Linked DNA regions of Homo sapiens: region 2 is linked to region 1. The links come from fine-mapping of genetic effects on gene expression. Tissue or cell type: whole blood. Region 1 holds a variant in brackets; the other region holds the start of a gene. All regions are shown on one strand. Distances are from middle to middle.

What was found. PIP is the estimated chance that this variant, and not a neighbour inherited with it, causes the effect.
Region 2: it holds the start of TAC3, and the variant in region 1 is the best candidate, but not a certain one, in a credible set for the expression of TAC3 in whole blood (TOPMed, PIP 0.50).

What each region holds. Positions count from the first base shown.
Region 1 is chr12:57,074,868-57,081,748 of GRCh38, reverse strand. It overlaps NEMP1 (nuclear envelope integral membrane protein 1), which reads left to right and starts at 2,958. Exons shown (of 9, transcript NM_001130963.2): 1 at 2,958-3,130. The coding sequence starts at 3,004. RefSeq lists enhancers at 2,984-3,033, 3,154-3,403. The variant G/A (reference allele first, on the strand shown) is at 2,988.
Region 2 is chr12:57,013,715-57,020,595 of GRCh38, reverse strand. It overlaps TAC3 (tachykinin precursor 3), which reads left to right and starts at 4,067. Exons shown (of 7, transcript NM_013251.4): 1 at 4,067-4,209; 2 at 4,794-4,912. The coding sequence starts at 4,799.

The sequences.
Region 1 (6,881 bases):
TTTTTAGTAGAGACGGGGTTTCACCATGTTAGCCAGGATGGTCTCCATCTCCTGACCTCATGATCCGCCCGCCTCAGCCTCCCAAAGTGCTGGGATTACAGGCATGAGCCACCGTGCCCAGCCTCGTTTTTTTAAACTAATGTGTTTTTCTGTTCCAGGATCCCATCTAGACCACCACATTATGTTTAGTTCTCAAAAACATAATGGGCTGGGCATGGTGGCTCATGCCTGTAATCCCAGCACTTCGGGAGGCCGAGGCGGGCAAATCACCTGAGGTCGGGAGTTCAAGACCAGCTTGACCAACATGGAGAAACCCCATCTCTACTAAAAATATGAAATTAGCTGGGCGGGGTGGCACACACCTGTAATCCCAGCTACTTGGGAGGCTGAGGCAGGAGAATCGCTTGAACCTGGGAGGGGGAGGTTGCGGTGAGCCAAGTTTGTGCCATTGCACTCCAGCCTGCTCAACAAGAGTGAAACTCTGTCTCAAAAAACAAAAACAAAAAAGCCCATAATGATGTTTGGATGACTTTGACAGCTTTGAGGAGTACTGGTCAGGTATTTTGTAGGATGCCTCTATTGGAATTTGTCTAATGTTTTTCTCAAGATTAGAGTGGTGTTATGGGTTTTGGGAAGGAAAACCACAGAGTTAAAATGCCATTTTCATCTCATGTTATCAAGGGTACATAGTATCAACATGATTGATGCTGACTTCCCTAGGTCAGCTGAGGGAGTGTGTGTGTGAAATACAGGATGACCATATCAGCACTGTTGGCCTAGACTTTTCCTTCTGAGAATGAAATCTCTTCTCTTGCCCATAGCTCAGCCCCATTTTGACTTTTTTTTTTTTTTTTTGAGACAAGAGAGGCTCGCTCTGTCACCCAGGCTGGAGTGAAGTGGCATGATCTCGGCTCACTGCAACCTCTGCCTCCTGGGCTCAAGCAATTCTTCTGTCTCAGACTCCTAAGTAGCTGGGATTACAGGAACCTGCCACCATGCTGGGCTAATTTTTGTATTTTTATTAGAGATAGGGTTTTGCTGTGTTGGCCAGGCTGGTCTCGAACTTCTGGCCTCAAGTGATCCTCCCACCTCAACCTCCCAAAAGTGCTGGGATTACAGGCATGAGCCACCATGCCCAGCCCATTTTGACTTTTTTTTTTTTTCTCTTTTGAGACAGAGTCTTGCTCTGTCACCCAGTCTGGAGTGCAATGGGGCGATCTTGGCTCACTGCAGCCTCCGCCTCCTGGGTTCAAGGGATTCTCCTGCCTCAGCCTCCTGAGTAGCTGGGCTTACAGCCACCTACCACCATGCCTGGCTAATTTTTGTATTTTTAGTAGAGACGGGGTTTTGCCATGTTGGCCAGGCTGGTCTCGAACTCCTGACCTCAGTTGATCCACCCGCCTCGGACTCCCAAAGTGTTAGGATTACAGACCTGAGCCACCATGCCCGGCCCATTTTGACTTTTAAAAAGGTCCTTGTTTTAGACCAGGTGCAGTAGCTTACTCCTGTAATTTCAGTAATTTGGGAGGCCAAGGTGGGATAATCACTTGAGGCCAGGAGTTTGAGGTCAGCCTGGGCAACATAGCAAGATATTGTCTCTACAAAAAGTAATTAAAAAAAATTAAGCCAGACATAGTGGCTCATGCCTGTAGTCCCAGCTACTTGGGAGATTGAAGTGGGAGGATCATTTGATCCTGGGAGTTCGAGGCTGCAGTGAGCTGTGGTTACACCACTGCATTCCAGAAGGGTTACAGAAGGAGACCTTGTCTCAATAACAACAACAACAACAACAACAACAATGAAACAAACAAATAGCTGGGCATGGTGGTGCATCCCTGTAGCCCAACCTATCTAGGAAGCTGAGGTGGGAAGATGGTTTAAGTCCAGGAATTCAAGGTTACACTGAGCTGTGATGGTGCTGTTGCACTCCAGCTTGGGTGTCAGAGAATGACCCTGTCTCTAAAAACATTAAAAAAAAAAATTCTTGTTTTGAAAGCTTGAACCTTCCCCAGGAGATGCCCCCTTCCTTGAATTCCTCAATTCATTTGGCTCTATCATCTGTAGTTTTCCTACCCATCACCATCAGATCCTCTTAAAAAAAAAGTTTCAATTTCTACTAACAGTTTCTGAACACCTGGATCTCTGCTGGGCCCTGTGTTAAATCATTGAATGGGAAGCAGCTAATCCATATAAATAACTCCGGCTTTGGAGTCAGTAGGATTTAGGTTGGGATCACAGACCAGATGAACTATGAAATCTTGGGCAGGTTCCTGTGGCTGTCTTGGCTTTGGCTTCTTAAATGGAGAGAATTATATTTGTCTCACAAGATGATAAGAGGAATAAATGAATCTTTCTTAATCCTAACATTAATTTTACTTCCAAAAATAAAAATCCTATGAATACATTTTTAAAAGCTAATGTTTATGCTTATAAAATATTGACACACACTTTTTTGTGACTTCTATTTTAAATCCTTTAGGACTTTGGAGAACCACACTTTTGTCAGTCGACTTTAAAAATCGTCCTATCAGGGTCCTACTCATAAAGCGATCTCAATTGTAGGCGTCTCATAACAGAAAGGTCGTGATAAAAAGTAACCGAAAGAAAACGGAAGGAACTTCAGACAGCTTCTATGGAAATACCGAGTTTGGTCAAGGAGGCCTCTCCCATTCCGATTTTCTATTGGTTAAACTTACCATCAATCACACCAGTTGTAAATAAACTGAAGACGGAAGCATGTTGTTAGCGGGGTGGGATCTTCCTGTCGCCACTGCTAGGGTGAGAACCCATTTTCCAATAGGCTGAAAGCTGCTTTTCCCGCCCTCTCTCTTCAGTTGCTAAGGGGCGGGACTCATAGGGCCCTTGGAGGGCTGGGTGCTCGAAGCCCTGCCCATCCCATTGGTTGATAGGGGCGGGTTTCGTAGAGGATAGGCTGCTGTCGTTGCCCGTTCGGAGTTAGTTGCTGGGGTAAGGCACGTGAGGAGGAG[G/A]TGGCTTGAGGCAACCATGGCGGGAGGAATGAAAGTGGCGGTCTCGCCGGCAGTTGGTCCCGGGCCCTGGGGCTCGGGAGTCGGGGGCGGTGGGACAGTGCGGCTACTCTTGATCCTCTCCGGCTGCTTGGTCTACGGCACAGGTACCGCCCGGGCAGCAGCTGCCAAGGGGGCAGGTGCCGAGGGGGTTATTTTTGGAAAAGGGATTGTCCCGAGGGCGCGGGCCGTTACTCTGCAGAAGGGCGGTGGCTCTACCGAGGGCCGCCGGCGTAGTGTGGTGGAAGAAACTTGGCAGGCTAGTGGGCGTCGGGACTGAGGGTCTGGGCCCTGAAGCGGGCTGGGGCAGCTTCCAGAGTGGGGAGGAGCCTGAAGCCTTTTGGCGGAGACAGGAAGGGAGGCCTAGACTGGTTGAGAAGCAGTCCTGGGGGCTGTGTCTCGTTGCAGAAGCCTTGAGTTTCTTGGTTAAAAGCGAGAAAACCTGGGGACCATTCTGGGCAGGCAGAGCAGCCGCGGGAAAGGGACCATCTCATTCATTCGGCAAATCAGCAAACACCATCTGAGCGTATGCTCTGTCAGGACGCAGGGCACGGGTGGCAGAACGGATGTAGTTGACAGAAATGCAGTGATCTCTACTATCTTCTGCTCTTGTAAAACCTTGATTCCTTACCGCCCCCGGCCCGCGAGATGGAGTCTAGCTCTGTCACTCAGGCTGGAGTGCAGTGGTGCGATCTCGCTCACTGCAACCTCCGCCTCCTGGGTTCAAGCAATTCTCCTGCTTCAGCCTCCGGAGTAGCTGGGATTACAGGCACCCGCCACCGCGCCCGGCTAATTTTTGTATTTTTAGTAGAAATGGGGTTTCACTATGTTGGCCAGGGTGGTCTCGAACTCCTGACCTCGTGATCCATCCGCCTTGGCCCTCCCAAAGTGCTGGGATTACAGGTGTGAGCCACCGTGACCGGCCAAATAATGCATGTTTATTTTAGATGATTTGGCAAGGTACAATTAAGTATAAAGAAGCAGGCAGAAACCACACTGTTAATCCATTCAGAAGCAATCTATTTTAGCACACTTTCTTCTGATCTTTTTCCACATATTTTTAATTTTTTATGAATTGATAATTTGTATCCAGTTAGTACTCTAGTTCTCTTCCCTGGAGGCTGCCAGTCGTTACCAGAGATAGTTTTCTCGTTTGATTTTGTAGTACAATAATTTTCCCAAGTAATTTAAAATTCTTTTTTTGTTTTTTTGTTTGTTTGTTTGTTTGAGATGGAGTTTTGCTCTTGTTGCCCAGGCTGGAGTGCAGTGGTGCAATCTCAGCTCACTGCAACCTCCGCCTCCTGGGTTTAAATGATTCTCCTGCCTCAGCCTCCTGAGTAGCTGGGATTACACTTGCCCGCCACCACGCCCGGCTAATTTTTTTTTTTTTTTTTTAAACAGAGTCTCCCTCTTTCGCGCAGGCTGGAGTGCAGTGGCCAGATCTCGGCTCACTGCAAGCTCCGCCTCCCAGGTTCACGCCATTCTCCTGCCTCAGCCTCCCGAGTAGCTGGGACTACAGGCGCCCACCACCACGCCCGGCTAATTTTTTGTATTTTTAGTAGAGAGGGGGTTTCACCGTGTTAGCCAGGATGGTCTTGATCTCCTGACCTCGTGATCCGCCCGCCTCGGCCTCCCAAAGTGCTGGGATTACAGGCATGAGCCTCCACACCCGGCCTTAAAATTCTTTGTAAATGTTGTCTTACTTGTATTACATTCCAATGTATGTGCAGATGTTCATTTAATTTTTTTTCTCCACCCCCCGCCCGCCCCGCCCCGCAGAATGTAGTCTTGCTGTCTGGCCCAGGCTGGAGTGCAGTGGTGCAATCTCGGTTCCTGTTTCAAGCCATTCTCCCATCTCAGCCTCCCAAGTAGCTGGGACTACAGGCATGTGCCACCACACTCGGCTAATTTTTTTTTTTTTGAGACAGAGTTTCGCCCTCGTTGCCTAGGCTGGAGTGCAATGGCACTATCTAGGCTCACTGCAACCTCAGCCTCCAGAGTTCAAGCACTTCTCCCTCTGCCTCCCGAGTAGCTGGGATTATAGGCGCATGCCACCATGCCTGGCTAACTTTTTGTATTTTTTGTACAGACGGGGTTTCACCAGGCTGGCCAGGCTGGTCTCAAACTCCTGACCTCGTGATCTGCCCACCTCAGCCTCCCAAAGTGCTGGGATTACAGGCGTGAGCCACCACGCCCAGCCACACTCAGCTAATTTTGTATTTTTAGTAGAGATGGGGTTTCACCATGTTGGCTAGGTTGGTCTCGAACTCCTGACCTCAGGTGTTCCGCCCGCCTCAGCCTACCAAAGTACTGGGATTACAGGCGTGAGCCACCATGCCTGGCCTTCATTTATTATTTTTTAGTGACGTGGTTTTGCTGTGACACCCAGGCTAGAGTGCAGTGCACAATCATAGCTCACTGTAACTTCCCACCTCGGTCTCCCCAAGTAGCTGGGACTACAGGCACGTGCCATCTGCCTGGTAAAAATCATTATTAATGTTGTGGATTAAACATTTGGTTGGATATTGGTGGTTTGTACTGTTGGTTGGATATTTGTGGTATTTCTAGTTTTTCATTGTTGTAAGTTTGTGAACATCTTTGTGTATACATTTTTATTTATTTATTTATTTATTTTTTTGAGATGGAGTCTTGCTCTGTTGCCCAGGCTGGAGTGCAGTGGTGCCATCTCGGCCACCTAGGTTCAAGCGATTCTCCTACCTCACCCTCCCGAGTAGCTGGGATTACAGGTGTGTGCCACCATGCCCGGGTAATTTTTTTGTATTTTTAGTAGAGTGGGATTTCGCCATGTTGGCCAGGCTGGTCTCAAACTCCTGACCTCAAGTGATCTGCCCGCCTCAGCCTCCCAAAGTGCTGGGATTACAGGTGTGTGCCACCATGCCCGGGTAATTTTTTTGTATTTTTAGTAGAGTGGGATTTCGCCATGTTGGCCAGGCTGGTCTCAAACTCCTGACCTCAAATGATCTGCCCGCCTCAGCCTCCCAAAGTGCTGGGATTACAGGTGTGAGCCACCGTGCCTGGCCTTATTTTTTTTTCTTTTTTTTTTTGTAGAGATGGGGTTTCATCATGTTGGCCAGGCTGGTCTCAAACTCCTGAGGTCAGGCAATCCCCTCACCTTGGCTTCCCAAAGTCCTGGGACTACAGGCGTGAGCCACCACGCCTGGGCCCAACTATTTATTTATTTATTTATTTATTTATTTATTTATTGATATTGAGATGGAGTCTTGCTCTGTCGCCCAGGCCGGAGTGCAGTGGTGTGATCTTGGCTCCCAACTATTTATTTATTTATTTATTTATTTATTTATTTATTTATTTATATTGAAATGGAGTCTTGCTCTGTCGCCCAGGCTGGAGTGCAGTGGTGTGATCTTGGCTCACTGCAAGCTCCACTTCCCGGGTTCATGCCATTCTCCTGCCTCAGCCTCCCAAGTAGCTGGGACTACAGGCGCCCGCCACCGTACCCAGCTAATTTTTTTTGTGCTTTTAGTAGAGATGGGGTTTCACCTTGTTAGCCAGGATGGTTTCAATCTGCTGACCTGGTGATCCACCTGCCTCGGCCTCCCAAAGTGGTGGGATTACAGGTGTGAGCCACGGCGCCCAGCCCCTTATTTATTTTTTTGAGACGTAGTCTTGCTCTGTCACCCAGGCTGGAGTGCAGAGGCGCGATCTCGGCTCACTGCAGTCTCCCCTCCCAGGTTCAAGCGATTCTTCTGCCTCAGCCTCCCAAGAAGCTGCGATTACAGGTGCCCGCCACCATGCCCAGCTGATTTTTTTGTATTTGTAGTAGAGACGGGGTTTCACCATGTTGGCCAGGCTGGTTTTGAACTCCTGACCTCAAGT
Region 2 (6,881 bases), 61 kb after region 1:
TAAGGAGTCTGAGTCATTAGAAGTCTTTTCTAGATTTTTTAAAAATGTGGTATTGAAGATGGCAAAGAGGAAGGAGGAATAGGGTGGAGTAAAAGTAAATGGGAGGATAGTTTTTAAGAAAGGAAGTGAATAGAGACATCAAACACATTTTAAAAAAAAGATTTTAGTCTACTGAACAAAATTTTTTAAAATAGGATTTAAAGAGAAAACACAGAAGGCTTTAAAAATATACACATAGCTTGAATATTAGCTTTTAATTAAGCTGACTTCTAACCATGGAGCTCTTTAACAAAAATTCTTTTAAATTTGTCTCTCTCCTCCTTTAAAACTTTTTGTAGAGATGGGGTTTCGCCCTGTTACCCAGGCTGGTCTCAAGTCCGGGCAACTTCTGGGCTAAAGTGATCTGCCTGTCTCGGCCTCCCAAGTGATAGGATTACAGGTGTGAGCCACTGCGACTCACCTTAAATCTCTTGTTACCAGATTTTAGTTGGGACAAATGCTGATATTTTAAAAGTCACATAAATATTAAGCCGAAAAGGACTGATTTCTGATTAGGAAGGAAACCCTAAGCCACGGTGGGAATTTTAATTATTAAACTGTAAAATGGAGCAGCCTCCATTGTTAATTTTGTATGGAATCCAAAGTGGCAGTTTGAGTGTAATTGTTTTAGGTCAGGTTTTTGTGCTTTAATTTAATCAAGACAATTGTTAAGGATAGCTGTGACACTATTATGTGTCCTTTTAATTTGATCTATCAATTCTTTAGAACAAGTAATTTTTTTAAATTTAGGAATTTTAGTCTAAAGGATTTATCTTTTGGCCATTGACAATTAGAATTTTTAATGGGGTATTTAATTCCAATAGCAACTTAATCCAAAGTTTTCTTTATGTCAAAGAAAACAGAAGCCCAGGAGGGATGAGACCTTGTAAGACAAAACTCCCCTAGGAGCTTGGAATGTTTGAAAATACATGTGTTGGGCTCCCAATCTTTTCATACTGGCTGTGATGTTACCTGAAAAATCACATCCTTTGGATGGTGGAGACCAAGCGGGAATATCCCCATCTAGTCACGTCATGCTCTCAAGGACATGAGACAAGAGGGAAACCTCTCACCCTGTTTTTATTTCAGGGACTGGCAGCAAAGTTTGTCATAACAGAAGTCAGCATAACCAGAACCACGAAACTGACCAGTTTGCAGGGCCAGTTCAAACAGTGGGTTGCAGGCCTGTTCTACCCTAGGGTACCCCTCCTTATGACAGAACACCAAAAGACAAGACAAAAACGAAGGAAAACGGCAACAACAAAAAAGCTATTTCTGAAAGGAAAATGGCAACAACAACAACAAAAGCTATTTCTGAAGGGAATGGGGTCAAACTATGAATACTTATACCACAAAGTACTAAAAAATATATCAGACTCACTATACCAAGGTTAGTCACACACAAAACCTGTTCTCTCATTAATCTTACATTTGGAAAGGAAAAGGGAAACAATGATTTTTACTGTCCACTCATCCAGAGTCCACAGAGAGAGGAAAACTGGAAAACTGGGAGTCTGGCAGGAAATTCTCACTCCTCTGCTGGCTTGCCAGGTTCCTGTATTTCCTTCTCTGTGGCTTCCAGAAAAGCACAATAGCTTTGGTGGTCTTATTTGTGATGCCAAACTGTGGTCTTGGCCCCCTAAAGTTTCAGTGAAAATCACTGACATGAAGCAGATTAATAGGGAAAAAGGCATACAAATTTATTAAATACGAATGGGAGCCTTTAGAATGAAGCCTTGAAGCTATAGGGGAAATTGTCTATTTTTATGTTTAGGTTTAACAAAGTATGGACAGCTGTGTAGAAATATGACTGGACAGAAAGGGCACGATCTAATGTTAACAGACTGAGTGGGGAAACCCAGCAAGGCCTGTCTGTTGAGATTCCTCCTAGCCTCTCTCATTCCTTCCTTCTGGTGTGGGGCAGGACCCTCTCTGGAATGGAGGTTTTATGACCTAAGTCAAATAACGTAGGTCAGATTTTTTTTTTTTTTTTTTTTTTTTTTTTTGAGCTGGAGTCTCTCTGTCAACAGGCTGGAGTGCAGTGGCGTGACCTTGGCTCACTGAAACCTCCGCCCCCTGGGTTCAAGCCATTCTCCTGCCTTAGCCTCCTGAGTAGCTGGGATTACAGGGGTGTGCCACCACGCCCAGCTAATTTTTGTATTTTTAGTACAGACAGGGTTTCACCTTGTTGGTCAGGCTGGTCTCAAATTCCTGACCTTGTGATCCACCTGCCTCGGCCTCCCAAAGTGCTAGGATTACAGGCGTGAGCCACTGTGCCCGGCCTTTTTTTTTTTTTTTTTTTTTTAGGAAGTTGTATTTTGGGCTTTTTAACTAGCTTGTTTTTTAATTAGATTATTGCCTTTAGGGTGGAGCCCTTTAATAAAAAGGGGGAAGAAAACATAGGTTTTAGGGCCTCATATTTAAATGGGTAAAGCAGGCATAGCTGGAAGGCAGAATACAGAACCCCCCTAATCAAGGATCTCATTTTTATATTGAATCCTAGGCCCCCCAAAAGAGGGAAATGTCATGGGACGAGATGTGTGGCATTTTTATCGAGTGCCCCACTGTAAAGATGCTCCCCCAAGGCTGGCAGGCAGCCCAGTGCCGATTAGCCCACTCTGTGCTTAGTCTTTTTTTTTTTTTTTTTTTTGAGGTGGAGTCTTGCTCTGTTGCCCAGGCTGGAGTGCAATGGCGTGATCTCGGCTCAATGCAATCTCTGTCTCGTGGGTTCAAGCGATTCTCCTGCCTCAGCCTCCCAAGTAGCTGAGATTACAGGCACCAGCCACTATGCTCAGCTAATTTTTTGTATTTTTAGTAGAGATGGGGTTTCAACATGTTGGCCAGGCTGGTCTCGAACTTCTGACCCCAAGTGATCCGCCCGCCTCGGCCTCCCAAAGTGCTGGGATTACAGGCGTGAGCCACCATGCCTGGCGTGCTTAGCCTATTTTTAATGGGAGTTTCATCCTCAATGGTGAGTGCTTTCATTGTCTTTAGGTGCCCCAGACCATGTTTTTAAAAATTTAAATGCACGAAGAAATAAGTAGCCCTGTATAGTAGTAATACTTTGTTGTGAATAACTGTCATAAGTCATCTCTAAAACTGTATTTTTTATCTAGTTATTATATATGACTAGCTATATGTCTAGTTTTTTAAATAATACAAAGTAATTTATTTTTGGCATCCTCAAAAACCAAAGAGATTAGGTAATGTAGTGTAGAAGAGAGCAGAGCTTTAGACCTGAGAAGAATCTGCCCATGACTCGTGAAACTCCACAACGAAAGTAGGAGACCCCAAAAAAGGGGTGAGTGTCATCTTTTCTGAATTTTTTTTTTTTTTTAGATGGAGTCTTGCTCTGCCACCAGGCTGGAGTGCAGTGGTGCAATCTCGGCTCAGCCTCCCGAGTAGCTAGGATTACAGGCACGCGCCACCATGACCAGCTAATTTTTGTATTTTTAGTAGAGACAGCGTTTCACCATGTTGGCCAGGATGGTCTCGATCTCTTGACCTCGTGATCCGCCCGCCTCGGCCTCCCAAAGTGCTGGGATTACAAGCGTGAGCCACTGCACTCGGCCGGTCAGATAATTTTTTTGGCCAGTTTTTACATAGAGTAATTTTAGGTTTTATGGCTGGCTTTGGGGCAAAGGGGTTCTGGTTTTTATAGCTGGTCTTGGGGGAGAATGGAACCGAGTGACAAGAGGACAAGAGAGGGTCAGAGAAAAACTTCTGCTTCTGAGGCGGCTATTGAGGCCTTCATTTTGGAGTATTGTCCTCTAAGCCCCAGCAGTGTCAAACTGTACACAAACCATACACAGCAGCCAGCTCGGGTGCTGTTAGGAAATGGTCTCACTGCTGGGTCTGTGGGGTATGTGTGTGTCTGGGTGTGTGGCTACTGTCTGCATCCTCCTCCCCCCTACAGCCTCCCCGCCTCCCCTCCAGCCACCCTGGGATTGGTGACTCTCAGCCCCTCCCCTCAGCTCCCCTAGACCCTCCCAGAGCCTTTATCAGGGAGCTGGGACTGAGTGACTGCAGCCTTCCTAGATCCCCTCCACTCGGTTTCTCTCTTTGCAGGAGCACCGGCAGCACCAGTGTGTGAGGGGAGCAGGCAGCGGTCCTAGCCAGTTCCTTGATCCTGCCAGACCACCCAGCCCCCGGCACAGAGCTGCTCCACAGGTAGGCAAGTGGGAGAATGCTGGATGGACCAGAGCTGGCACCAGGGGACAGGAGCCAGCGTCAGGAGGGAATAAAGCAGATGGCAGCCTCTGATAGGGGAGCAGGGGACTGGGAAGGTGAGCACAAAGCACCTGTAGGGCCGAGAGCTGGTTGGTGTTTGGAGCCTGTGGCTACAGACTCATTCTTTCATACCAGAAAGTTTTTGCCTAAGTCTTGGGATTATCTAGTACTGGAAAATAGCATCCAGGATCCCTCCTCCAGCTGACTGAGGAAACAGACCAGTCCATGTCCTACAAATCTATCATCTTTCTTGGGAGCTAGAGTCCTCCTGGCACCACTATAGCATTGCACATCTCCTGGGGAGATATCTGATGGGGTAGCAGGGAAACTAAGCCCAAGGGCTGTACCCCCTTCTCAGAAATACTTTCCACCCTCTCTCCAGACCAGGGCTTGGACAGTGGAGTTGGGGGCTGGGGAAGCAGGGTCAAGCCAAGCTGCTGGTAATGAATGTCTCTTGTGTCTTCACCCATGCTGTATCTTCCTCTTCTCTCCTTTACCTGAGTCCTGTCCCTTTGCTCTCCCAGGCACCATGAGGATCATGCTGCTATTCACAGCCATCCTGGCCTTCAGCCTAGCTCAGAGCTTTGGGGCTGTCTGTAAGGAGCCACAGGAGGAGGTGGTTCCTGGCGGGGGCCGCAGCAAGGTAAGTCTCCCCTGGCAGAGTACTGGGGACATCACGGGAACTTGGGACTCTGCCTGTCTGGACAGCTGTAGTGAGGAAACTGGGGTGGGGGGGTTGTCCGTCAGAGGGCATTTTGCCTCCCTTTGGATTTCTTTGTTTCTCTGGTCCTTTCATGTTCCCACTGTCTCCAGGTGTGTTTGTGTCTCTGTATCTCTGCATGTCTTTGACACCTTGTACATAAAAGGTGCCCTACAAATATGTTGTTTGGTGGGTTGATTGATGGGAGACTTGGTGATTGGATGGTACTGTGAGGGGTGAGCTAGGGTGGTCTAAGGCTCTCTATAGTCTACCTCAGGTCCCTTTGCAAGGGACAGATCTCTTCTATTTCCTGGATGGTATGAAACAGTCAGAATTTCTTTCCCAAATGGTTATTTGTGTGCTATTTTACCTATCAGTTATGTGTATTGTTTTATTTTCAAAATGCAAATAAATTCCCTTATCTTTTGCTCATCCACCCCCAGTAACCTCAGGTGCTTCTAAGATCCCAACCCCTTCCTTCTTCTCTTTTCTCCCTTGCCCGCCTCTATCCTCTGCTTAGTCAGGATAGGAAAACAACAACAGCAAAAAAACCAGATTGAGCCTCGATTTCCACAGTTCCTTTACGAAAAAGAATAGGAATTGTCAGGGTAGGGGTACAGGGGGAGGATAGGGAGGAAGTCTTTTCAAGGTTTTGAAATGACAGCAATTACATCGGTACAAATGCTTTTAAGATGATTGCGGGTGGGACTTATTACAAATTCAATGTGTGAAGTTTAACTGCCTCTTCAGCTCAAATCTGTTCAGCATCTCATTATAGGAGGTGGGCAGAGTATTCAACAATTTGGGAAAAGTGGCTGCCTGAACACCACATGCTGGGCCAAGGGAGTTATCACCAGGGCAGCCTTGCAGGTGGCAGCAGTTGTGCCATATCCAAAAGGCCAGAACCGTTAAAAAAAAAAACACCCAGGGGAGTGCCAAGTATGGGCTGGACACCGTTTGGAGCCACAAAGTTCCAGCCCAGGATAGTTAGAGTATCTGAGTTCTTCTGAGACAAACTTGTTTCAAGACCTTGGCCAATGAGATGTCCCCTCTGCCCCTCTTGGTCAATGAATGAGAGGGATTGCCATCCTACCCCTTCTCCTTGAGAGTCTGTGAGGATGAGGGAAATTGGGGCAGGAAGAGGGTAGTACATAGGTGTGCCTAGGCAACTGGGTTGGTATGTGTGGGGGTGTGTTCTGTGTAAATGCACTTCTGTGTGTGCACAACAGCCGAAGGATGCCTGGGTTCTGGAAAGAGAGGCGCTGCTGAGACTTGAGATTTGAGATGAAAATCTCCAGCCATGATCATTGTTATTGTCTCTCTGCAGCTGCAATTAACTGGCTGTGTGGTGTGTGCCCACCACCCTGCTGTACGCAAGTTGCTAAAAAAAAAAAAAAAATCACAGGGACAATCAAGAGCCCGTGCTGGGCAACAGCTCTAGAACTTGGGATTCAGTTGTGGAGAGAAGAAGACGTGCCTTCTGAGCATGTTGCCTTCCTGGAATTCTAGACCTAGGGCCAAAAGGGAGAGGGAGAGAAAACTAGAGGCGGAAAGCCATGGAGAATAGAGAAAGAGGTGGTGGAAAACAGGGAGAGAAACATCCATGGACATCGTGCAGAGTGGGGGAATCACAGGTGCAGATGTGTGCCTCCAATCTCACCATGCATGTGAATCACCTGGGGGGCTGCTTAAAATGCAGATTCTGTCTCAGGAGGTCTGGGGTAGGAACAAGAGTCTGCATTTCTAACAGGCTCTGTGTAGTGCTGGTGTTGCTGTTGGTCCACAGGTCACTCCTGGAGCACCTACTTCTCGTCCAGTGTGAACCAGAGGAAACTCTGAAAGAAATAGGGTGTCGGATTCAGGATGGGCTCAGGAAGAGGCTGTTTCTTGTGGGAAAAGGATGAGTGGATCC